4 linked regions of the Homo sapiens genome follow. The protein of the gene in region 1 purifies or fractionates together with the protein of each later gene. This does not show direct contact. Each region holds a gene or a part of one and is shown in the gene's direction. Other genes may lie near its edges.

What was found.
Region 2: the proteins of IRF9 (region 1) and ANKHD1-EIF4EBP3 purify together in Homo sapiens (affinity purification with mass spectrometry, with the first as the bait; 2 studies listed by BioGRID). This does not show direct contact.
Region 3: the proteins of IRF9 (region 1) and FBLN1 purify together in Homo sapiens (affinity purification with mass spectrometry; 2 studies listed by BioGRID and IntAct, with this or other methods). This does not show direct contact.
Region 4: the proteins of IRF9 (region 1) and ANKHD1 purify together in Homo sapiens (affinity purification with mass spectrometry, with the first as the bait; 2 studies listed by BioGRID). This does not show direct contact.

Annotation. Positions count from the first base shown.
Region 1 is NC_000014.9:24,164,231-24,167,073, forward strand, and holds the end of IRF9 (interferon regulatory factor 9), read left to right. Parts: intron 1-356; coding exon of another isoform or gene 357-383; coding exon 384-725; intron 726-826; coding exon of another isoform or gene 827-953; intron 954-1,616; coding exon 1,617-1,732; intron 1,733-1,891; coding exon 1,892-1,966; coding exon of another isoform or gene 1,967-2,025; 3' UTR 2,026-2,335; downstream 2,336-2,843.
Region 2 is NC_000005.10:140,544,791-140,550,076, forward strand, and holds the end of ANKHD1-EIF4EBP3 (ANKHD1-EIF4EBP3 protein), read left to right. Parts: intron 1-2,871; exon of another isoform or gene 2,872-2,947; coding exon of another isoform or gene 2,948-3,050; intron 3,051-4,115; coding exon 4,116-4,286; intron 4,287-4,443; coding exon 4,444-4,447; coding exon of another isoform or gene 4,448-4,472; 3' UTR 4,473-4,786; downstream 4,787-5,286. Other genes in the region: EIF4EBP3 (eukaryotic translation initiation factor 4E-binding protein 3), read left to right, coding at 2,948-3,050, 4,116-4,286, 4,444-4,472. UniProt on the Homo sapiens protein: May play a role as a scaffolding protein that may be associated with the abnormal phenotype of leukemia cells. Isoform 2 may possess an antiapoptotic effect and protect cells during normal cell survival through its regulation of caspases.
Region 3 is NC_000022.11:45,526,883-45,533,924, forward strand, and holds part of FBLN1 (fibulin-1 isoform D precursor), read left to right. Parts: intron 1-964; coding exon 965-1,127; intron 1,128-4,382; coding exon 4,383-4,442; intron 4,443-6,180; coding exon 6,181-6,282; intron 6,283-6,878; coding exon 6,879-7,016; intron 7,017-7,042. UniProt on the Homo sapiens protein: Incorporated into fibronectin-containing matrix fibers. May play a role in cell adhesion and migration along protein fibers within the extracellular matrix (ECM).
Region 4 is NC_000005.10:140,502,799-140,509,840, forward strand, and holds part of ANKHD1 (ankyrin repeat and KH domain-containing protein 1), read left to right. Parts: intron 1-2,022; coding exon 2,023-2,168; intron 2,169-2,323; coding exon 2,324-2,435; intron 2,436-2,925; coding exon 2,926-3,071; intron 3,072-4,036; coding exon 4,037-4,179; intron 4,180-4,986; coding exon 4,987-5,200; intron 5,201-6,838; coding exon 6,839-7,014; intron 7,015-7,042. Other genes in the region: ANKHD1-EIF4EBP3 protein, read left to right, coding at 2,023-2,168, 2,324-2,435, 2,926-3,071, 4,037-4,179, 4,987-5,200, 6,839-7,014. UniProt on the Homo sapiens protein: May play a role as a scaffolding protein that may be associated with the abnormal phenotype of leukemia cells. Isoform 2 may possess an antiapoptotic effect and protect cells during normal cell survival through its regulation of caspases.

The DNA of each region.
Region 1 (2,843 bases):
AAACTGTACCCACATTACCATAGCCCTAGGCAGTGGTTTCTAGGTGGCGAGAATTCCATATGCCTGGCCAGACTCCAAAAAGCTTGCTTCCCAAAAATACCACCCTATACACTCTCCTGGAAATCTACATTGAGACATTGATTTCATTGGGCCAAACAGAGGCCCAATCTCAAGGGACCTTCTAGTAAACTACAAGCCCCTGGGCATTGAGCCCTGAGGCCTCATGGTGAATCACATACTAGCTACTTGCCTCAGTGATAGGAAAACCTGAGAGGAAGCCCCCTGGCTGGTGTGGGGAGGGGAGGTGGAGTTGTTCCCCTGGGGAGGGGCTGCTGCCAGCCTGCATGCTCCTCCAGCACCAGGTAGGGCTGTTCTATCCCCAGACTACTCACTGCTGCTCACCTTCATCTACAACGGGCGCGTGGTGGGCGAGGCCCAGGTGCAAAGCCTGGATTGCCGCCTTGTGGCTGAGCCCTCAGGCTCTGAGAGCAGCATGGAGCAGGTGCTGTTCCCCAAGCCTGGCCCACTGGAGCCCACGCAGCGCCTGCTGAGCCAGCTTGAGAGGGGCATCCTAGTGGCCAGCAACCCCCGAGGCCTCTTCGTGCAGCGCCTTTGCCCCATCCCCATCTCCTGGAATGCACCCCAGGCTCCACCTGGGCCAGGCCCGCATCTGCTGCCCAGCAACGAGTGCGTGGAGCTCTTCAGAACCGCCTACTTCTGCAGAGGTGAGGCTGTTCTCTCTGGGCACATGAGCTTCCACCCCCTACCTCTTAGTACCCCCTGGGCCCAACTTGTTGGGTCCTGCTACCTCCCTATCTGCCAGCAGATCCTCCATGTAGCCTATGCATGGCACTCCTGCGCTTGTGTGTTGCATATCCTGTGTGGCCATATGCCCAGCCTGGCAGCTACCTGGCAGCTCTCCTCCAGCCAAGACAATGGAAGAGGTGGTTCAGGTAGAGCCCAGCACAAGAGTGTCATATCTTGGAGAACACCATCACACTGAAGCATGCAGTCACTATGTGAAGGTGCACAGAAGAATTGGCACAGAGATTTTGAGCCTCATGGCCTTCTCCTACGTACACACATTTGGGAGAGCTGGCACACATCACACACACTGGCCCTGGCTGCACCGTCTTTACCACACTCCAGGCATGCCTTAGGGTTGCGCTTCTCTCCCATCCAATTCCAGCTCCTACTCAATTCTAAACCTGACCTTAAGAGTGGGACCAGGTGTACAGGGGGTGCAGAGTGTGGGTGTTCCCAGGGCCATGGGTGCCCTAGCACTGGGAGGATGTGAGCAAGTAGCAAAGGTCTGGGCACATCTGAGTTAGCAGCCAGGGCTGCTACCTGGGAGGACTCTAAACTCTCCCAGCAGAGAGCTTGTCGGGCTGTGCTGTGATCTGCTACTTCTAAGCACTTATATGAGGCAGGGGCACCCTTTCCTATTTGCACATGGGTGAGTAGCACTTAGTTCCAAGTACTTCTGACCTTGCAGCTCCTGCTCTGGCAAGACCCCCTCCTACCTCTCTCCATCATGGGTTCCTCACTATTGCCTCCCTGCCTGTGGCCCTCTCTCTTCTTTTTGTTCTTCGAACCCTTGACCCTTTCTCTTTCAGACTTGGTCAGGTACTTTCAGGGCCTGGGCCCCCCACCGAAGTTCCAGGTAACACTGAATTTCTGGGAAGAGAGCCATGGCTCCAGCCATACTCCACAGAATCTTATCACAGTGAAGGTGAGCTCGGAGCAGGGGTAGAGTACCCATCTAATGAGAGCAGAGACAGTGGTGCTCCAGGAGGCAAAGGGGGTCTCCCAGTGGGGAAGGAGCTCCTGGGGGTGGTGTCTGTCCCTGATGCACGCACTGAGATGCTCTTCTCCATCTCTTCCAATACAGATGGAGCAGGCCTTTGCCCGATACTTGCTGGAGCAGACTCCAGAGCAGCAGGCAGCCATTCTGTCCCTGGTGTAGAGCCTGGGGGACCCATCTTCCACCTCACCTCTTTGTTCTTCCTGTCTCCTTTGAAGTAGACTCATTCTTCACACGATTGACCTGTCCTCTTTGTGATAATTCTCAGTAGTTGTCCGTGATAATCGTGTCCTGAAAATCCTCGCACACACTGGCTGGTGGAGAACTCAAGGCTAATTTTTTATCCTTTTTTTTTTTTAATTTTGAGATATACGCCCTCTTTCATCTGTAAGGGACTAGGAAATTCCAAATGGTGTGAACCCAGGGGGCCTTTCCCTCTTCCCTGACCTCCCAACTCTAAAGCCAAGCACTTTATATTTTCCTCTTAGATATTCACTAAGGACTTAAAATAAAATTTTATTGAAAGAGGAATCAGTATCTGATTTTCTGGGAGAAGAAGGTAGCAGTGGTCACAGATAGAGATGTAAACTTAAGAGTGGGGCACTGGGGTTCTCTTCCTGCTGACATCTCCAGCCTCTTTCCTCTCCTCTGCCCACAGGTTCTGGCTAAGATGCTGCCTGGGCCCTGTGGGTCCTGGGCCTGGCACTCTACAGAGGTACCCTCTGGGCAGATAAGATTAGGGTGTGGGTTGGGCACCAAGCCTTCAGCCAGGCACTATAGCCACCAACTTCACATGGTAAAGTCTGGGCTCCACAGTTCTTGCTAGAAGGCCCCAACATCGGGCCTGAGGTTAGTTAGATTGGAGGTCTAAATGAAGAGGAGACACTTGAGGGTGACCTGAAACTATGGTCTAGAGGCCCTGGGACCTGAGAACAGAGGAGTCAGAGAGAAGAGTTGCTGAAACTGTACCTGCTGTTACTGGCACCTCTTCCTCCAGCACAATTTCACTGTCACCCCAGCAGGGTACTCCCAAACTGGA
Region 2 (5,286 bases), on another chromosome or scaffold:
AATCTCATCCACTTCTCTCCATCCTCACAGCCATCGCCCGTTTGCCCACCTGGTTTCACTAGACTGGACTCTACCCTCAAATCTCACCATCCTCCACCCTATTCTCCCATTCCCCCTGTCAGACACTTCCTCACGTTGCATAAAAGGTTAGTTATCATAAATGATTCACTACAATCTGTTCCCAAGCTTTACCCTCCAGCACTGCTAAGACACTTCATTTTGGCATGCACCATTTTGTAAGATACTCAAAATCCTTTTCGGGACAATAAAATATACATACCCTTGATACCTGAAGTGTGTTTCTGAGGCCCTGAAGCGTTTGCATTACTGTATTAAAAACTCACAGTTGCAGTCAGGCCCGGTGGCTCATGCCTGTAACTCCAGCACTTTGGGAGGCCAAGCCAGGCAGATCACTGGAGATCAGGAGTTCGAGACCAGCTTGGCCAAGATAGTGAAACCTGATGTCTGCTAAAAATACAAAAAATTAGCCCGGTGCGGTGGTGGGTTCCTGTAATTCCAGCTACTCAGGAGGCTGAGGCAGGAGAATCGCTTGAACCCAGGAGGCAGAGGTTGCAGTGAGCTGAGATCATGCCACTGAACTCTAGCCTGGGTGACAGAGCAAGACTCCATCTTAAAAAAAAAAAAAAACCAGCCAGGTGTGGTGGCTTATGCCTGTAATCGTAGCACTTTGGGAGGCCGAGGCAGGCTGATCACCTGAGGTCGGGAGTTCAAGACCAGCCTGACCAACATGGAGAAACTCTGTTTCTACTAAAATTACAAAATTAGCTGGGTGTGGTGGTACATGCCTGTAATCCCAACTACTCAGGAGGCTGAGGCAGGAGAATCGCTTAAACCCGGGAATCGGAGGTTGCGGTGAGCCAAGATCATGCCATTTGGGCGGCAAGAGCGAAACTCCATCTCAAAAAAAAAAAAAAAAAATCCACAACTGGCTGGGCACGGTGGCTCATGCCTGTAATTCTTGTTTCGGAGGATGCCTGTTTGGGAGGATCGCTTGGGCCCACAAGTTTGAGACCAGCCTGGGCAACATAGTGAGACCCCGCCTTTACAAAAAATTTAAAAATTAGCCAGGTACAGTGGCATGCACCTGTGGTCCCAGCTATTGAGGACACTGAAGTGGGAGGGTCACCTGAGCCCAGGAGGTTGAGGCTGCAGTGAGCCATGATTGTACCACTACACTCCAGCTTGGGTGACAGTGAGACCCTGTGTCAAAAAAAAAAAAAAATCCAAAATCTCACCCAGACCAATACTGTATCAGAATTATCATTTTAACAATATCTCCAGATGATTTATATGCACATTAAAGTTTGAGAAGCTGGCCAGGTGTGGTGGCTCACACCAGCACTTTGGGAGGCCGAGGCAGATAGGTTACTTGAGCTCAGGAATTCGAGACCAGCCTGGGCAACATGGTGAAACCTTGTCTCTATAAAAAATCCAAAAATTAGCCCGGTGTGGTGGTGGGCACCTGTGGTCCCAGCTACTCAGGAGGCTGAGGTGGGAGGATGGCCTGAACCCAGGAGGCAGAGTTTGCATTGAGCTGAGATTACACCACTGCATTCCAGCCTAGGCAGCAGAGCAAAACCCTATCTCAGAAAATAAATAGTTTGAGAAGCAATCTTTTTTTAAATGAGTGAAGAAATCAGACCTAAGGAGAAATCTGATGAAGCCAGAGCTGAGTTAATATTGATAAATGGATGCAGTCAGGTGGTCTATACTTAATTTTTGGTGAGGGGAAGGGACAGTGGAGGCAGTATTGATTTTGAGGAAGCCAAACAGGACAGCCTGATGAATTCAAGATTTCCAGCATATATACATCTTCACCAATCCCACCACCTTGCTCCAGCCTGTCATATCACTGTGTCTACATAAAAAAAAAAAACAAAAAAAAAACTCCAAGGCCAAACTCTCTGACCTTTCTTTCCTTCTAAAGACCAAGCCCTCCTCACTAGCCCCCTGCCCCTCCTTAGTTAACTGGCAAAGAGATCAAAGGGCAGGCCTTCTGACTGGTGATGCCTCAGCTGTAGCCCCCAAACTTGACTCATCCTTTTATTAGTCCAGGTACCACTTCTTCAGAAAGATGACCAGCCCTCACTGACCTTCCCCTTCCTGCTGTGCTCCAGGCCATCAAGGCATGTGTCACCCAGGCTGGAGTGCAGTGGTGCAATCTCCGCTCACTGCAACCTCCGCCTCCTGGGTTCAACCTATCCTTCCACCTCAGCTTCCCGAGTAGCTGGGTCTACAGGCGCATGCTGCCGCACCCGGCTAATTTTTGTATTTTTAGTAGAGTCTAGGTTTCACCATGTTGCCCAGGCTGGTCTCAGACTCCTGGGCTCAAGCTATCCACCCGCCTTAGCCTCCCAAAGTGCTGGGATTACAGGCCGTGAGCCACCGCACCCGGCCTTGTACTGTTACTGTTTATGGGAGGCAGTACACAGCTGGGCTTAAGGGCACAGTCCTGGAATCAGATGCAGTCAGATTTGAATCCCAGCTTCCCTTCCTGCAAGATGTGTGACTTTGGCTAATCATAGTGCTTTACTATCCAAAAGTTGGCAAGGAATGGGTGAACTAATACAGGATAAAAACGCTTGCCCTACTTCACCTGCCCCCAGCTCCCGGCTATAAACAGTAAATAGCTGAGCTGCTGCAGCACTCAGGCAGGTTGGCCAGCGCTGGGCCAGCAGGAACTGGAAGCTGGTGTGGGGCCTGGGACTTTGGACGCATTTCCAGCTTTCTCTGAACCGGGCTGGCTTCCTAGCAGATAGGGCGGGACCGTCGGGTTGAGTGACGGCCGGTGGCCCGCCCTGGGCGTGACGTTGTTCTAGTGTTGTTGCCAGCAGCTGCACGTGGTCGGCTGAGTCCGCCTCAGACTCAGAGCTGCGCTCCTCGACCTCAACGCCAGGCGGTTACTTTGCTGCTCCTCCCGCTCGCTATGTCAACGTCCACTAGCTGCCCGATTCCCGGGGGCCGGGACCAGCTGCCCGACTGCTACAGCACCACGCCGGGGGGCACGCTATACGCCACTACCCCCGGAGGTCAGCGGGCCGGGCAGGGGTCCGCAGGCTGCGGACATATTAGCGCGTGCGTGTTGTTGCGGGGCGGGGGTAGGGGAGGGACAGACCTAAGACTTGTCCGCAGGCCCCTCTACAGGTTGTAGCTTTGGGGGAGAATGTTTGGAGCGGAAGCTCAGTTCCCAAAAACTTCTAAGTGATGCAACAAGGCCATGAGCCTAGCTTCCGGGTGTTTGGGCTGTAATCCTTCACTGTGGCCTGGGTTCTTGGAGCCTTACACACGCTCCTTACCCCTCGCGACTTTGCTTCCTAGGAATAGGGGCCAGGGCCCCCTACTGAGCGTGACCTCAGCCGGAAGCACCGGGTCTTGAGAAGTGGAGTAGTTAGAACAGTTGGGGCAGTTGCTCCGTTTTTGTGCTGCTGGCTGGCGTCTGTTTGGTTGGGCGAGCAGCCTGGGATCACGAGCTGCTGGGCTCCCGACCCAGGGATTCCTGCCACGCGGAAGCGGAGGGGAGGAACAGGGCAGGACCCTTTGAGGACATTATGCGGGCCAAGTTCCTCTGAGCTAGTGTGAACCTTATAGGACCTGGGAGGGGTCAGGATTAGAACAGTACGTTTCTCCTCCCTGCAGGAGATAGCCCAGGTAACAGCACTGGGTGGAACCCTTCACAACTGCTATTTCACTTCTTGAACCACCTGAGGCTGTTAGTCTAGGTCTCACCTTCACTGGTGAGACCAAAGCAGAGGTTTCAGAGTGGTAGAGGAGCAGCATGAAGTACCTGAACTCAAAGTTTGGTGTTCCTCTTAGAGCCAAGATCTGAAGCTCTCCCAAACATAAAGCCCCTGCCTATACCAGCTGGGATGCCCCCCTTGCTTTATACCCACATCTTGGTTAGGTCTGGAAGATTTTAAGCACTATGAAGGCTTGTCTGCTGAGAACCTAGCTGGGCTTCAGAGCCGATGTCCTTTGATACACAGGGAAATTTGACACCACCCTCACCTCCAGGCCCCAAAAGGCCTGAGTCTGGGACCCCAGTCACCTCGGTACCCAAGCTCCTGACTCTTACCTCAGTCCCAACCCCTTGACAGGCACCAGGATCATCTACGACCGAAAGTTCCTGCTGGAGTGCAAGAACTCACCCATTGCCCGGACACCCCCCTGCTGCCTCCCTCAGATTCCCGGGGTCACAACTCCTCCAACAGCCCCTCTCTCCAAGCTGGAGGAGCTGAAGGAGCAGGAGACAGAGGAAGAGATACCCGGTAAGGAAAGCAGGAATTAAGAATTGTCCCAGCCTTTGAGTTCAAATGCCACTGTGACACAGTGCGGGGGTTCAGTTCCAAGAGGGGTTTCTGCACTGATGCTGAGCCTGCAGATCCTCAGACCAGCAACCTGTCTTCCTGCCTTTTCTCTCTCCAGATGACGCACAATTTGAAATGGACATCTAATCCAGTGCAGATGACCTGGCATGTGGAGTTACAGAGGGATCCCTCATGCCACTGCTGCCACCACCTCTTCCTGGGGCATCCAAAGGCCAGCTGGCCTCATCTAATCTGGAAGGGAGTGACTTGTTAGTTCCAGGCCTCCTTTAGTTCTGAGGCAGCTAGACCAGGGATAGGAGTGGGCAACTTGCCAAGCCCTTAACTCTACTTCCTCTTCAGTCTGTGGTACTCCTCCTAACCCTAAACCCTCTATGCTCAGGGGCTGGAACTGGGGAATGGAGTAAGTCACCTTCTGACTGCTTAGTAAACATTCAAAGAAATGCCTTGGCTCCAGTGTTCTCCTCAATGCTGATTTTCTCATCTCAGCCACACAGCTGAAGGCCCTGGCAGGCCTGGTTAAGCTCAGAGGCCTCAGATCATTCCCAGCTCCCACCAGGCCCACTTCCAGCAGCAATTAGAACCTGAGGCACGCTACAGTGGCAGGTTACATGAGCCTCCAAACCATAAACAGCAATAGCTTGGCCACTGCCAAGGGCTGTTCCTGTCTTCCCAGGAAGCAGCCTTCCTGGAACCAGGGCCCCCCAGCAGCCCCTCCCCTATCCATTCCAAAGCAGGACTCTTGGAAAAGAGGTGCTGTCCCAGCCTATAGCCATCCTGTCTCTCCCTGTGCCTTTTCTGCTTCCCACCTCTAAGCACCAGTTCCTCTATTCCAACACCAAAAACCTTGTACCCTTCTCACAGCATGATAGTCCACCAAGTACCTCTCTCAAAGGGTTACAAGAGACCTTAGAGTTCACACTGAAACCCAAAATGAGGCAGC
Region 3 (7,042 bases), on another chromosome or scaffold:
GGCACACAGCTGTGCCCATGTCCCCAGACTTGAGAGGTGTGGAAAAAGCACAGAACATTCTAGCAGGAGTGGGAACAGATCTCTCTGGCAGATGAGCGACTTGTGTTTCCAGGAAGGATTACTCACACCCCAAAAGATGGATGAGGTGACTGATGCTCCCTACACTTTCTGGCAGCGGAGGGCGTAGAATAAGCAGCCTGGAAGACCCATCAGTGCCACATAACTGAGGCAAAGCTACACCTCCTGGCTCCTGCTGGGGACTGTTTAGAAAGTTCTGTGCTCCTCTTAGGATAACCACTTAATAAAGACTGAAGCAGGGCTTTTCGTGTGTCAGGGCAAATGTTGCTTCTGGGACTCAGGTGTGAGGCCACAGGGACTTGGAAGTAACTATTGGGACCTGGGCCCAGGTGGCAGACAGCCACCCTGTCCTTTGACCTTGCTTGATGACTCGTCTTGAAGTTCCTGTGCTTTCAAATGCACGGTGCAATTCCTGCTGCCAGAACCCCTCTAACTCAAAAACGGAGAGGCAGCATGCATGTGTGTCATTTTTCCGGGCATGGTAGAGAAATCTCAGACCATGCAAAAGGAACAGAACTTTGGAGCTGGTGCATGGTGCTATAAGAAGCTCCCTCTTCCTGGATGTGTGCGAGCAGAGCCGGGTGGTCTCTGGGCGGGGCAGGGATGTTGAGGGGTGCAATTGCATGTTGGGGTGGGGAGGGGAGGTGGATGCCAGGCCCTTTAAGCTTCCTTTCAAAACTGGGACCTAGATGATTTGGAGTAGGGGGATGGCCTTGCTTTGCTATTTGTTGCTGACATTTAGAAGTGGTATCTAAGCCAGACTTGAGTCATCACTCTACAGGTTGTGTGGACAGGGGGCTCAGAGAGGCCTCCCCTGAGGCCTCTCGTGGACCCCGCTGGGCTGTCTGCCCGCTCCTCCATCTGGGATCTCCACCTGTGTTTGCAGAGGTGCTGCCATTGCTGTCTGCTGGGGAGGGCGGCCCAGGCCCAGGGCCAGAGCTGCGAGTACAGCCTCATGGTTGGCTACCAGTGTGGACAGGTCTTCCAGGCATGCTGTGTCAAGAGCCAGGAGACCGGAGATTTGGATGTCGGGGGCCTCCAAGAAACGGGTAACTTTCCCCCTTCCTTCCCTAATGAGCAGTGTATTAAGGTTCTCCGGGATGTGTATATAGAGCGAGAGTGGAGAGAGAGAGATTTTAAGGACTTGGCTCATGTGATCGTGGGGCTGGCAAGTCCAAAATCTGCAGGGCAGGCCTTCAGGCTGGAGCCCCAGGGAAGGAGGGGCATTGCAGCTGGAGTTCAAAGGCAGTGTGCTGGCAGAACGCCGCCTTTCCCGGGGAGGCCAGTCTTTTTTCTCTGAAGGCCTTCTGCTGATTGAGTGAGGCCCACCCATGGTATGAAGATGATCTGCTTTTCTCAGCATCAACAGACTTACATGTTAATCTCTTTTTTTTTTTGAGACAGAATCTCTCTCTGTCACCCAGGCTGGAGTGCAGTGCAGTGGTGTGATCTTGGCTCACGGCAACCTCCGCCTCCCGGGTTCAAGTGATTCTTGTGCCTCAGCCTCCCGAGTAGCTGGGATTACAGGTGTACACTACCACACCTGGCTAATTTTTGTATTTTTAGTAGGGATGGGGTTTCACCATGTTGGCCAGGCTGATCTGGAACTCCTGACCTCAGGTAATCCACCTGCCTCAGCTTCCCAAAGTGCTAGGATTACAGGTGTGAGCCATCGTGCCTGGCCAATATTAATCTCTAAAATATAGCTTCACAGCAACATCCAGGCTAGTGTTTGACTAAATATTTGAGTACCATACCCCAGCCCAATTGACACTTACGATGAACCATTACAGGTAACACGTGCATCCGTGTCACCATTGCCTTAACTCAGCACGGACTAACTCCGGTTGTCGGAGCCATTCATGTTTGTGACCTTATCTGAAAGCCGCTGTCCTGGAGTGACGCTGAGTGCTTGGAGTCTGGGATCGGACAAATCTGTGCTCCCATCCGGGTCCTAATGTGTACCTTGGTCCCCTCATCTGGGAAGTGGGGATAGTTGCAGTCCTACTTCATCAGGTGCTGGGAGGATGGAGTGCGAGATTGGGTGTCAAGGGTTGGGTAGAGCACCTGGCCCCATAAATGTCTGCCCTCACCATCTGCCCTTGTCCCTTCAGCTGCCCGGGGCAGCATGGGTGGCTGGCCTTGCTCCCACTTCTTGGGTGAGGGTCTGATGCTGAAGATCGCACAGCCGACACGTGGAGGAGGGAGAGCCTGGCCTTCCACCTCCTGGCCAGTGCCCTCTCCATCTGGAGCTGACGATGTATGGGCGAGCAGCTGGGGGCCATCGCTGGCTAATAGCTGGCTATGCTCTGTCAAATCATAGACACTTACTCAGCAAAGGGGCATGTGACCCCAAGAGCAGCTTCAAGAGCGCTCTCAGCTGTGTGCCCCCCCGTTCTGTGTCCTCGCCCTGCATTTCTGTGTGGTTCAGTTACAGGGTTCAGGAGACTTTGTGGCTGTCCAGTAGCCTCTTACACTTAGGCCACGGTTTCTTGTGCTGTAACAGAATTAACCTGGAAGAAGGCAGGACTCCGCCTGGGCCAAGCTTGCTGTGTAGTTTTCGGCCTGTTCCCTCCTCTCTCTGAGCTTTGCCCCCACTCTCTTAAAAAATAAAAGAGGTGTGAGCTGGGCACGGTGGCTCACGCCTGTAATCCCAGCACTTTGGGAGGCCGAGGCAGGCGGATCACCTGAGGTCAGGAGTTCGAGACTAGCCTGGCCAACATGGGGAAACCCTGTCTCTACTAAAAATACAAAAATTAGCTGGGCGTGGTGGCGGGCGCCTGTAATCCCAGCTACTTGGGAGGCTGAGGCAGGGAGAATCGCTTGAACCTGGGAGGCGGAGGTTGCAGTGAGCCGAGATGGCGCCATTGCATTCCAGCCTGGGTGACAGAACGAGACTCAGTCTCAAAAAAAATAATAAAATAAATAAAGAGGTGGGGAGGTGCCGGAAGGGGCGAAAGGGAAGAACCCTCAGACCTGTAGTCTCTAAGTCAAGGTAATGGCTGTAGGGTCCTGGGTGACACGGAACCTTTCACTTCTTGTTCTTAGGTTTTCAAGTCCAGGCTGTAGGGCCCCTGGTCACAGAGGACCCGGGTCACCCGGGACTCATCTTTCACTTATTGTTCTTAGTTTTTCAAGTCCAGGGCCCCATGGATGCCACTGAGATGATTTCAGATGTTACAGTCATCAAGAGGGATTGGGGCCGCATTCTGCCTCATTCCTTGGCTTTTGAAATCAGAGACGACATTTTCACTTTAAACAAACCCAAACCATTCCTGCTGGTGGAGGATTTCTCCTGCATCTCGGGGGTGGATTTTCACTGATTTATGTCTGCAGCGTGAGCAGTCTCTGGGCTTTTCTGCAGCTCCAGATGTTAGATGTTTTATCTCTCCGTCTTTTATCTGCTTCAGTCCTTGCCCCAGACTATCCTCGCATGCTCCCTCCTCTGGGAGGGCTTCCTGTCTTCACAGCCGCACCTTCCTCCCACTGCTACCAGTGCCATGGACCCACTGTATGTTTCCTGGGGGCCATGCAGAAGGTCCCCAGACCAGTGCTGGCCTGCGACAAATAAGTACAGAAATGGAGAATAACCCTTTTCAAACACATAATAGCATTTGATAGAATCAATCAGGAGACTCAAGTTTTTACTGCGTGCATTGCTTTAGACTTGGAGGGCGTGTGTTGGTTGTTAGCAAGGCTGTGACTGCATTTGCTGAGATGGTCAAGTAATTTGGACTATGGGAATATCACCCAGCATGAAGTCAATGATTACAGGCCTTTGTGTCTGTGGTCTTTCTGTTATAACTGATCTTTTTTTTTTGAAACGGAGTCTCGCTCTTGTTGCCCAGGCTGGAGTGCAATGGTGTGATCTTGACTCACTGCAACCTCCGACTCCTGAGTTCAAGCGATTATCCTGCCTCAACTTCCTGAGTACCTGAGATTACAGGTGCATGCCGCTACACCTGGCTAATTTTTGTATTTTTAGTAGAGACAGCATTTCACCGTGTTGGCCAGGATGGTCTTGAACTCCTGACCTCAGGTGATCCGCCTGCCTCGGCCTCCCAAAGTGCTGGGATTACAGGTGCCCGCCACCACGCCTGGCCTATAATTGATCAGATATCAATTATACATTTTCAAGTGTAATTCTAGCTTAAAGAGGATAAAGTTAATACTTAGCTGTTTATATAAGATGTTCAAATGGGCATTACTGCCTGATAGTGACAAGAAGAGAGAATGTTGGGAGTTTCTTTTAAGATAAGATGGGTGTTTGGATAAATGTCTGACTTGGTCTTTTTCCCCCTTAGATAAGATCATTGAGGTTGAGGAGGAACAAGAGGACCCATATCTGAATGACCGCTGCCGAGGTGAGACTCGGGCGTCTCCCATCAGTTGGTATTTAAACAAACCCCAAGGGGCCAGCAAGGTGGCTCAGGCCTGTAATCCTAGTACTTTGGGAAGCCAAGGCAGGAGGATTCCTTGAGCCCAGGAGGTTGTGGCTGCAGTGAGCTATGACTGCACCTTTGCACTCTAGCCTGGGCAACAGAGCTGGACCCCGTCTCAAAAACAAAAAAACAAACAAACAAAAAGCAAAACCAAGGAATCTCGGTGCTGATCTCACTGGAAGTTGGAATCCAGGTTTTGCTTTGGTTTACCCTGCAAAGTACCCTTTGGCTGGGAGCCAGCCATGAGCCACTTCCACCCTGAGGAGTCGTGGACTCCCAGCTCCTCCTTCCCTTTCCCCTTCCAGATCTAGGGCTGGCTGGGGAGGGGAAGGGTGGGCTTACCAAGGAGGGGCCCTGGTGAGGCCCTGCTGGGGAGGGTGGCCCAGGCCCAGGGCCAGAGCTGGTGTGGAAAGCCTGCACGTTACCGAGCCCCCAGGCCTTGTGAAGGTGACAGAGGCCTCCCTCAGGCTCTCAGGGGAGAGGAGGGGGCTCAGCGTTCCCTGCCTTTGTGCCCCTGGAGCCCCAGCCACGGTTCTGTCACCATTGGTGATATTCATTTGCCTCACAGGGAGATGTCTGCACATTTAACTAAGGGCCTCGCAGGTTTGTTTTTCATATGATAAAACTGCTTTTCTTTCATGGAACATTCTGGCATGTCTAGACCTGCAGATCTGCCTCACAAGCTCTTTCAGTGGTTCCCCCTGTGGTTAGGGTGTTAATTAGGGGCCAGTTTAATTCTTAAATGATGCAGTCAGTGTACAGTGACAGTTGGTCCAGGGGCGCTGTCCAGGGGCCTGGTGGAGGGAGGAAGGGAGTGACCTAGAGCCCCAGCAAGCCTCAGGGCTATGGGAGGAGCTTTCTGGGGAGGGGAGAGCTGGTCTGCAAGGAGGAGGTGGGATTAGCTGGGAAAATAACCCTGAAACGGTCCTCAGGGAGACCTGAAGCCTTGTAAAGGGCACGGACCCACTGTAGCAGGGTACTGGGAGGCAGTGGGCTGGGGAAGGAGGTGGGGTTACAGGGCCAGAGAGAGGGGCCCTAGAAGCAGGCAGGCTGGCAGCAGTTAGAAGTGTATCTCGTAGAATCTTTCCCTGGTTGAGGCTTATCCTGATGAGATTTGCACTCTGAGCATCACTCTGGCCACCCTGTAGGAAGAACAGGTTGTGGGGTGCTTCTGGGCTATGCAGAAAGACCAGGTAGGAGGCTGTGGCCACAGCCAGGTGGGCAGCTGCAGGAACTGAGGCCATGGTAGTGGGCTTGGAGCAGTGGGACAGCTCGAGAGTTCAGTGAGGAGCAGGTACATGAGGCCTAGTTGGGGCCTGGCCTTCCACGTGGAGCCCACACCCCCATGTCTGTGACCGGCAGTGAGCTCTTCTCTGCTTCGCCCCTTCCAGGTCCACCCCAGCCTACAAAGGGCACCCTGCACACCACCTGATTTTCCAGACGGGGAGGTTGGGACCTGAAGCAGCAGCCCCTGGGGGGTGTCCAGAGCCAGAGCCTGGGGGTCTCCCAGTAGGGCAGCAGGTGGGCTCCAGCCAGGTCAGCCTGCCTTCCTGGGTTCGTCTGCCCAGAGGGCGTTTTCTATGACCCAGCCTGAACGGAGCTAGAAACCAGGCGGTGCCTGGGTGCGTCCATCCCTGGCTCATGCACGCTGTGCTTCCAGGAGGCGGGCCCTGCAAGCAGCAGTGCCGAGACACGGGTGACGAGGTGGTCTGCTCCTGCTTCGTGGGCTACCAGCTGCTGTCTGATGGTGTCTCCTGTGAAGGTAATGTCCCTATCCCAGGTGCCAGCAGGACTGGCCGGTCACTGTGCTTGGGAGCTCTGTGCTGGAGGACTGACCAGGGCCTGCCTTCTACAACCCAGACCCCATTCAGGGGTGGAGAGCAGCCCAGGACGCGCTTTCTCGTGTTCGCTGGAGTTTGCAGCGCAGAGGCCCCTGCCGAGACTTCCCTCCAAGACAATATAAGCACTGGGGTTGGGAAAGAGGATGGAGTTGGGGTCTAACCAGGTTCCGGATCCAGGATCTGCTGAGTGGCCTTGGGCACATCCTTCAGCCTCTCCTGGCCCCCGCGTCTGTGAGATGGGGGAGATGGAGAAGATGCTGCCCCTCCGTGGGGTTCTTGAGGACCACATAACTACAGTCTCAGAAAAAGCAGTAGATATGAACGTTAGCAGGGGAGAGAAATCACTGCTTTCGACTCCGTGCAGTCCACAGCCCGGATGTGCACATGGTGGACCTGAGCTCAGTTTGCGAGGGTGCAGGGAAGCACTTCCACCGTGGCTTTGGCACATTCCTTTCTAGGATGTATTAGGATGGGTCGTTCTTGCTGGTCACCCCCGCACTGCCTCGGTCTCTCCTAGATGTCAATGAATGCATCACGGGCAGCCACAGCTGCCGGCTTGGAGAATCCTGCATCAACACAGTGGGCTCTTTCCGCTGCCAGCGGGACAGCAGCTGCGGGACTGGCTATGAGCTCACAGAGGACAATAGCTGCAAAGGTACAGCATGCGCTCCGAGTCTGCAA
Region 4 (7,042 bases), on another chromosome or scaffold:
AAAAAAATGACAAAAAATTTTAAGGCTTTGTTTCCATTTTGCATATTCTTATAGGTGAAACAAACATATGTAATAATTATTCCTATTTGTAACTAAATAGTTAAATTATGTTATTTATGTGATGACAGAAGCTGGAGAAATTTGTATTGCCAAGATGGTTATATATGTTGGTGGGGATGAGCTGGGTAGCTCATGTAGAAATATATCTGGGCATCTTAAACTTTGCTCACTTATTTAAACTAGTAATCTACTAAACTGAGTCATTCACACTTACGAATAGTATCTTTGAATGGGATCTAGTCATATCAAAAATTCTAGAGAGAAAATATTTTCCAACACTTAAAATGCTTACATTTTTCTTTAAGTCCTACGTGTTTTTGACTGACTTTTAATCTGGGTGCAAATGTAAGGTTATTGCCATCACTGATGCTTTGTTGATTTTTTTGTATATTATTACTGATTATATGTTTTTTTCTGAGTTTTTCCTTTCTTGAGTGAATAATGTTTTTATTTTTCAATACAATGAATAATAGTATTGACAATCCTATAAAATATCTGATAGTTACATCTATTGAGCACCCACCATTTGCTAAAAACACTGTGTTAAATGCTTTATATACAGTATCTCTTAGACTACTCACAACATCCCTGAGATAGGTCCTGTTTCCCCCCGTGGTCAAACTCCATCTCTTAAGAAACATAAGAAATTTTCAGAGATATAAAATACATAATTTCTTTTAACTCAGTTTTCTTTCTTTTTTTTTTTTTTTTTTTTTTTTTTTTTTTTGAGATGGAGTCTCACTCTGTTGCCCATGCTGGAGTGCAGTGGTGCGATCCTAGCTCACTGCAACCTCCGCCTCCCAGGTTAAAGCGATTCTCCTGGCTCAGCCTCCCGAGTAGCTGGGCTTACAGGCGCGTTCCACCACTCCCAGCTAACTTTGTGTTTTTAGTAGAGACGGGGTTTTGCCATGGTAGCCAGGCTGGTCCTGAACTCCCAACCCTCCTGACCTGAGGTGATCTGCCCACCTCAGCCTCCCAAAGTGCCAGGATTATAGGCGTGAGCCATCGCTCCTGGACTTAACTCAGTTTTCAAACCACATTTTGAGATCTCAAATAGAACTTCAATGTTCATTTTAAAAATAGTTGGACTTTCAGATACTGATTTTTTAACAAAGTTTCAAAATAAATATTGAATTTAGGAAACACATACTCCCTGCTATTTATGTGAGAAATACTTGAACTTGTCTCCCTCCCCTCCCCCACCCTTTTTTTTAGATGTAGTCTAGCTCTGTCACCCAGGCTGGAGGGCAGTGGCGTGATCTCAGCTCACTGCAGCCTCCACCTGGGTTCAAGCAATTCTTCTGCCTCAGCCTCCCAAGTAGCTGGGATTACAGGCATGTACCACCACACCTGGCTAACTTTCTGTTTTTTTTAGTAGAGATGGGGTTTCACCATGTTGGCCAGGCTGGTCTCAAACTCCTGACCTCAGGTGATTCACCCGCCTCGGCCTCCCAAAGTGCTGGGATTACAGGCGTGGGCCACTGCGCCCAGCCCCCTTTTTTTGAATTGTACACAGGATATTTTTATCTAATTGACTTTTTTACAAACTAAAATCTAGAATTCCTTTTATTTACTTTTATTTTTGGAAATTTTTTTTCCTCCCTGTTGGCAATGCAAAAAGCTACTATTTAATGTATGTGCACTAAATATCAGGTGCTGTGTTAAGTATTTTATCTGCATTGCCTCAGTGGTCTTTCCAATAACCTTCCAAGGCAGGTACCATTATTTTCGCCATTCTACATATAGGGAAAATTGAAGCTCAGAGAAGTTAAATTACTTGCCCAAGATCAGAAAGTCAGTGTTGGAACTAATATTTAAATGTAGGTCTGTCTGATTCCAAAGCTTGTGATTTTACTATTACTACATATTACTGCTATGGAAATTTCTGTTTTTGTGTTTTTCTATGTACAAATAACCTTACTCTTTTAAGTGGAATTTAGCAATATGAATATTGTTTTTCAGCTGTGAGTACCAGAGTGCCCACTGGTTCCAACAGTTCTTCTCAGACCACAGAGTGTCTTACACCTGAATCCTGTTCGCAGACTACAAGCAATGTGGCTTCCCAATCGATGCCTCCTGTGTATCCTTCAGTTGACATTGATGCACATGTGAGTAGATTGCTTTATTTAAACTTATTTTGCACATTCTGATCTTCTTTGGAAAGGAAAATTATTCTGCATTTATTGTGAAAAGAAATATTATTTGCTCTTAAATTGATAACTTCTGTTAAAAAAAATTTTAACTTATTTTTTTCTTCTCCTAGACTGAGAGCAATCATGACACAGCATTAACACTAGCTTGTGCAGGTGGTCATGAAGAACTTGTATCTGTGCTCATTGCACGGGATGCCAAAATTGAACACAGAGACAAAAAAGGTAAATATCAGTCAGAAATAAAATCCAAGTGTAGTTACATCAGAAAATAATTAACTTTTTTATTATTGATAAATAGTTCCTAGACTATCTCAGTGATAAGATGGATAAGTATATTTCAGTTAGGAATATCTGGATTCATTATTCTGCGGAGCCAAATAATTCTCAAAACATTCAAAAATTAGACGTAGATCATTAGTGAAATAGAGCAAGTTGTGGTTGCCTTTGTTAATCCAAAGGTAGTTCATACAGAGGCATCAAAGTTCATTATGAGTATAAACTTTAATAATTTTTACCGACTTAGTTTTTTAATTAGGTGTTTATGGGTTTTTTGTCACTAACAAATTAGGGTTTAGAGCAGTTTTATGTTAACTCATTATCAGTGTCTGCCCTGAAGGATTTATTTTGCTAAAATACTAGAGAATTGTAAACAGTGGCTTTAAAATAAAATAAAAAACATAAATTTGTTTAAGATTTTCATTTTCTGATTTAGGTTTCACACCACTAATCCTGGCAGCAACAGCAGGGCATGTTGGAGTTGTTGAAATCCTTTTGGATAAAGGTGGAGATATAGAAGCACAGTCTGAACGAACTAAGGATACTCCGCTTTCATTGGCATGTTCTGGTGGACGTCAGGAGGTGTGTTAATGTTAATTTTCATTTTGTAAATATTTTGCTTGTATTTTAAAATATGCATATGATTCGTATTTTAGCTACATGAATAAAATTTGCATGTATTTTGTGTGTTTGTTTTTCTGAGGCAGGGTCTTGCTCTGTCTCCCAGGCTAGAGTACAGTGGTGCAATTACAGCTCGCTATAACCTTGAACTCTGGGGCTCAAGCAATCCTCAGCCTCCCAAGTAGCTAGGGCTGTTTTGTAGAGATGGGGTCATGTAATGTTGCCCTGGCCGATTTCAAACTCCTGGCCTCAAGCAATCCTCTCTCCTCGGCCTCCCAAAGTACAGGGATTATAGTTATGGGCCAGCATGCCTGGCCCTGCACGTATTTTAACATGTTCCATATACTTTCTGAGGAATGGGTACTTCTGTTAACTTTTATGGGAATGTAAATGCCCTTTTTTTTTGGCGGGGGTTTGTGGAGGGAACAGGAGGGTGGAGATGAGGTCTCATTATGTTGCCCAAGCTGGCCTTGAACTCCTGGCCTCAAGGGATCCTCCTGCCTTGGCCTCCCAAAGTGCTGGGATTATAGGCATGAGCCACCATGCCTGGCCATAAATCCCCTTTTAAAAAATCTGTTTCTTGCCCTTAAAGCCAAATAAAAATTATCTTAATCCTTACATTTATTCGGATTGAATGAATCACAATTCTAACACATATGAAGTGCAAATTTATTGCCCAATAAATGGCAAATAGAAAGGGTAACATCTTGTTATTGCAGTATAATTGGGATTTCAAAACTCTGAATTCCTGAAATTGAATCCATTTCTCTAGTGTTGATATTTCAATATTTAGGGTCTAATGAAATGTAATTAAAATATCAGATATTTAGATAAGGAAGTTATAAGTCCTGTTTCTTTGTGTTTCCTTCATTATAAGTTGAGCCCTTGGTGTAAACTCTCTTCTCTATCCATATTTTACTTTGTAGGTGGTAGACTTGCTGCTGGCTCGAGGTGCAAATAAAGAACATAGGAACGTATCTGATTATACACCACTGAGTCTAGCTGCGTCTGGAGGATATGTTAATATCATTAAGATTCTGCTTAATGCTGGGGCAGAAATTAATTCAAGGTATTGCCTGTTCATTTTATTGTTCATGTTTAGTAAGTTACTACTTTGGACTTAAATGTCTACCTCTTAACGTTTAGACAGATACATTTTAAATTAAGATAGTACTAAAGTTGCAAAGCCAACGATTATACCTATAATGTGTTTGTTTATAAGTAATCTCAGCTTATTTCAGTAATGTGGCTGCTTATAAAGAGGTCTCATTTCAAAAAGTGTTTTGTTCTATGGCCTACCACCCTAAACGTGCCCAATCTCATCTGATCTCAGAAACGGTATTTTATTTTATATAGTTGGAAATTTATAATCCCTAAATAGGAATTACATTTTATTTTTTAAGTTATTTATTTTTTGAGATGGAGTTTCGCTCTTGTTGCCCAGGCTGGAATGCAATGGCGCGATCTTGGCTTACCGCGAACTCTGCCTCCGGGGTTCAAGCGATTCTTATGCCTCAGCCTCCCAGGTAGCTGGGATTACAGGCATGCGCCACCACACCCAGCTAATTTTGTATTTGTAGTAGAGATGGGGTTTCTCCATGTTGGTCAGGCTGGTCTCAAACTCCCGACCTCAGGTGATCTGCCCTCCTTGGCCTCCCAAAGTGCTGGGATTACAGGCATGAGCCACCATGTCTGGCCGGAAATTATGTTTTAAATTGTGACATTTTCTTATTCTTTATTATTGGTCGAAACAAGTAAAATCTATTCATTGATGTTAGAAACCTCTCTTTTTAGTGAAACCTTTTCATCTTTAATGCTTTTCTAAAATAATAGGCAACATATTATTTTAATTTTCTAAGCACATTTCCCCCTTTAGGACTGGGAGTAAACTAGGTATTTCTCCCCTGATGTTGGCTGCAATGAATGGACATGTTCCTGCAGTAAAATTGCTGCTCGATATGGGTTCAGACATTAATGCCCAAATAGAGACCAATCGGAACACGGCTCTCACCCTGGCCTGTTTCCAGGGCCGAGCAGAAGTAGTGAGTTTGCTTCTGGACCGAAAAGCCAATGTTGAACATAGGGCAAAGGTAAGCATTTTTTACTTGTCAACTATTTCAGATACATTTCTGTAGAAAGAACATGGCATTTTAACGCAAATTGAATATAATATTTTAAATTATCATAAATTAAAACTGATACCAATGCAGAGTTGAGGGATTATGCTGTATAATAGTGAGTGACATACTGTCACCATCATGACTTTTATTAAGGACAATGAAGAAAACAGAATTAGTACTTTTCCCAACCTCAGCCTTGAGTAGCTTTCTATTAATACTGCAGCTTACAACTTTTGAATGTAGTAAGATTATTTTGTATTAACTCTTACACTGTAGACTTTTAAAGAACACCTTTAATGAGGTATGTGCTTATCATTGTAAAAATCCCAAGCAAAAATTTAATTCACAAGTTATAAAATTAGGGCAGCTAACATCTAATTTGACCATGGCAGATTTTGACAGTTTCATGACTATTTGGTATTAAGAAAATAGGAGTTAGTGGAGGCTGGGCGCGGTGGCTCACTCCTGTAATCCCAGGACTTTGGGAAGCCTAGGCAGGTGAATCACATGAGGTCAGGAGTTTGAGACCAGCCTGACCAATATGGTGAAACCCCCGTCTCTACTAAAAGTACAAAAAATTAGCTGGACGTGGTGGCAGGCGCCTTTAATCCCAGCTACTCAGGAGGCTGAGGCAGAAGAATCACCGGAACTTGGGAGGTGGAGGTTGCACTGAGCAGAGATCACGCCATTGCACTCCAGCCCGTGCAACAAGAGAGAAACTCCATCCCACCCCCCGCCCCCACAAAAAAGAAAGAATAAAGGAGAAAAGTCATAAGATAATCTCCATAGATGCAGGAAACACACACAGAGGAAAGAAAATAGGAGTTAGTATGTCATTGGCTTGAATTTCTTTGCTTAGAACTGCAAGGTTCTTAGAACTCTGGAAAGACGTAGGTTGGGTAGAATTTTTAATAATTAGTCAACAGAGAATCTAGTGCTCATTTGAAATTGGAAAGATTTGACTGGAAATCTCGTACTTCTTCCCTGAAATTCCTTTTACTTCTTAAAGTTTAGTGCAACATTTACATTCTTTTAATCTAAGTAATGAGGAAGTGTAGTTTTTCCTTGGCTTTTTACCACACAAAGAGAAATGAGTCTTTCCTGTCATTCAATTTGTCTTTTTCTATTACAAGTATTCATTGTGTGCCACTCATCCATTAAAGGTCCTAGAGAAATCTGTGTTATTTTGGATAGTACCAGTAGGAAATGTCCTTTGAAAAAATGTTGGAGACTAACGTACCAAAGGCACATATGCAAAAAATTTATAAAGTGATTTTAATCTACTTATTTTTAATATCTCTATTCATTATGCAAAGAAATTATCTGAGTAAATTCACAAAAGTATAGAAGTTACAGAATTGTTTTTAGCATGAGATAACATGTTTTAAGTTCATTCTAGCACGTCTGAATCTAACAATTTCTACTGCTGTTTAGTAAAATTCAAGGCAAAATATTGCTTAGCTCTTTTATGAGAGCTAATCAGAACTAGAATTGTCTTAAAAGTTAATTGCCTCAGGTTTTTAAAGAAATTATGTAGCTTAGTTTTGGTCTACGGAATAGTTAAAAAAAGAAATGTAACTTAGTTGCATAATTTATTGGTTTAAACAGACGGGTCTTACCCCCTTGATGGAAGCAGCTTCTGGAGGGTATGCAGAGGTTGGAAGAGTTCTTCTTGATAAAGGAGCAGATGTTAATGCTCCCCCTGTGCCTTCCTCAAGAGATACTGCTTTAACAATAGCAGCAGACAAAGGTCACTACAAATTTTGTGAACTCCTGATTCATAGGTGAGTACTTTTCTATTATATGTAGAAC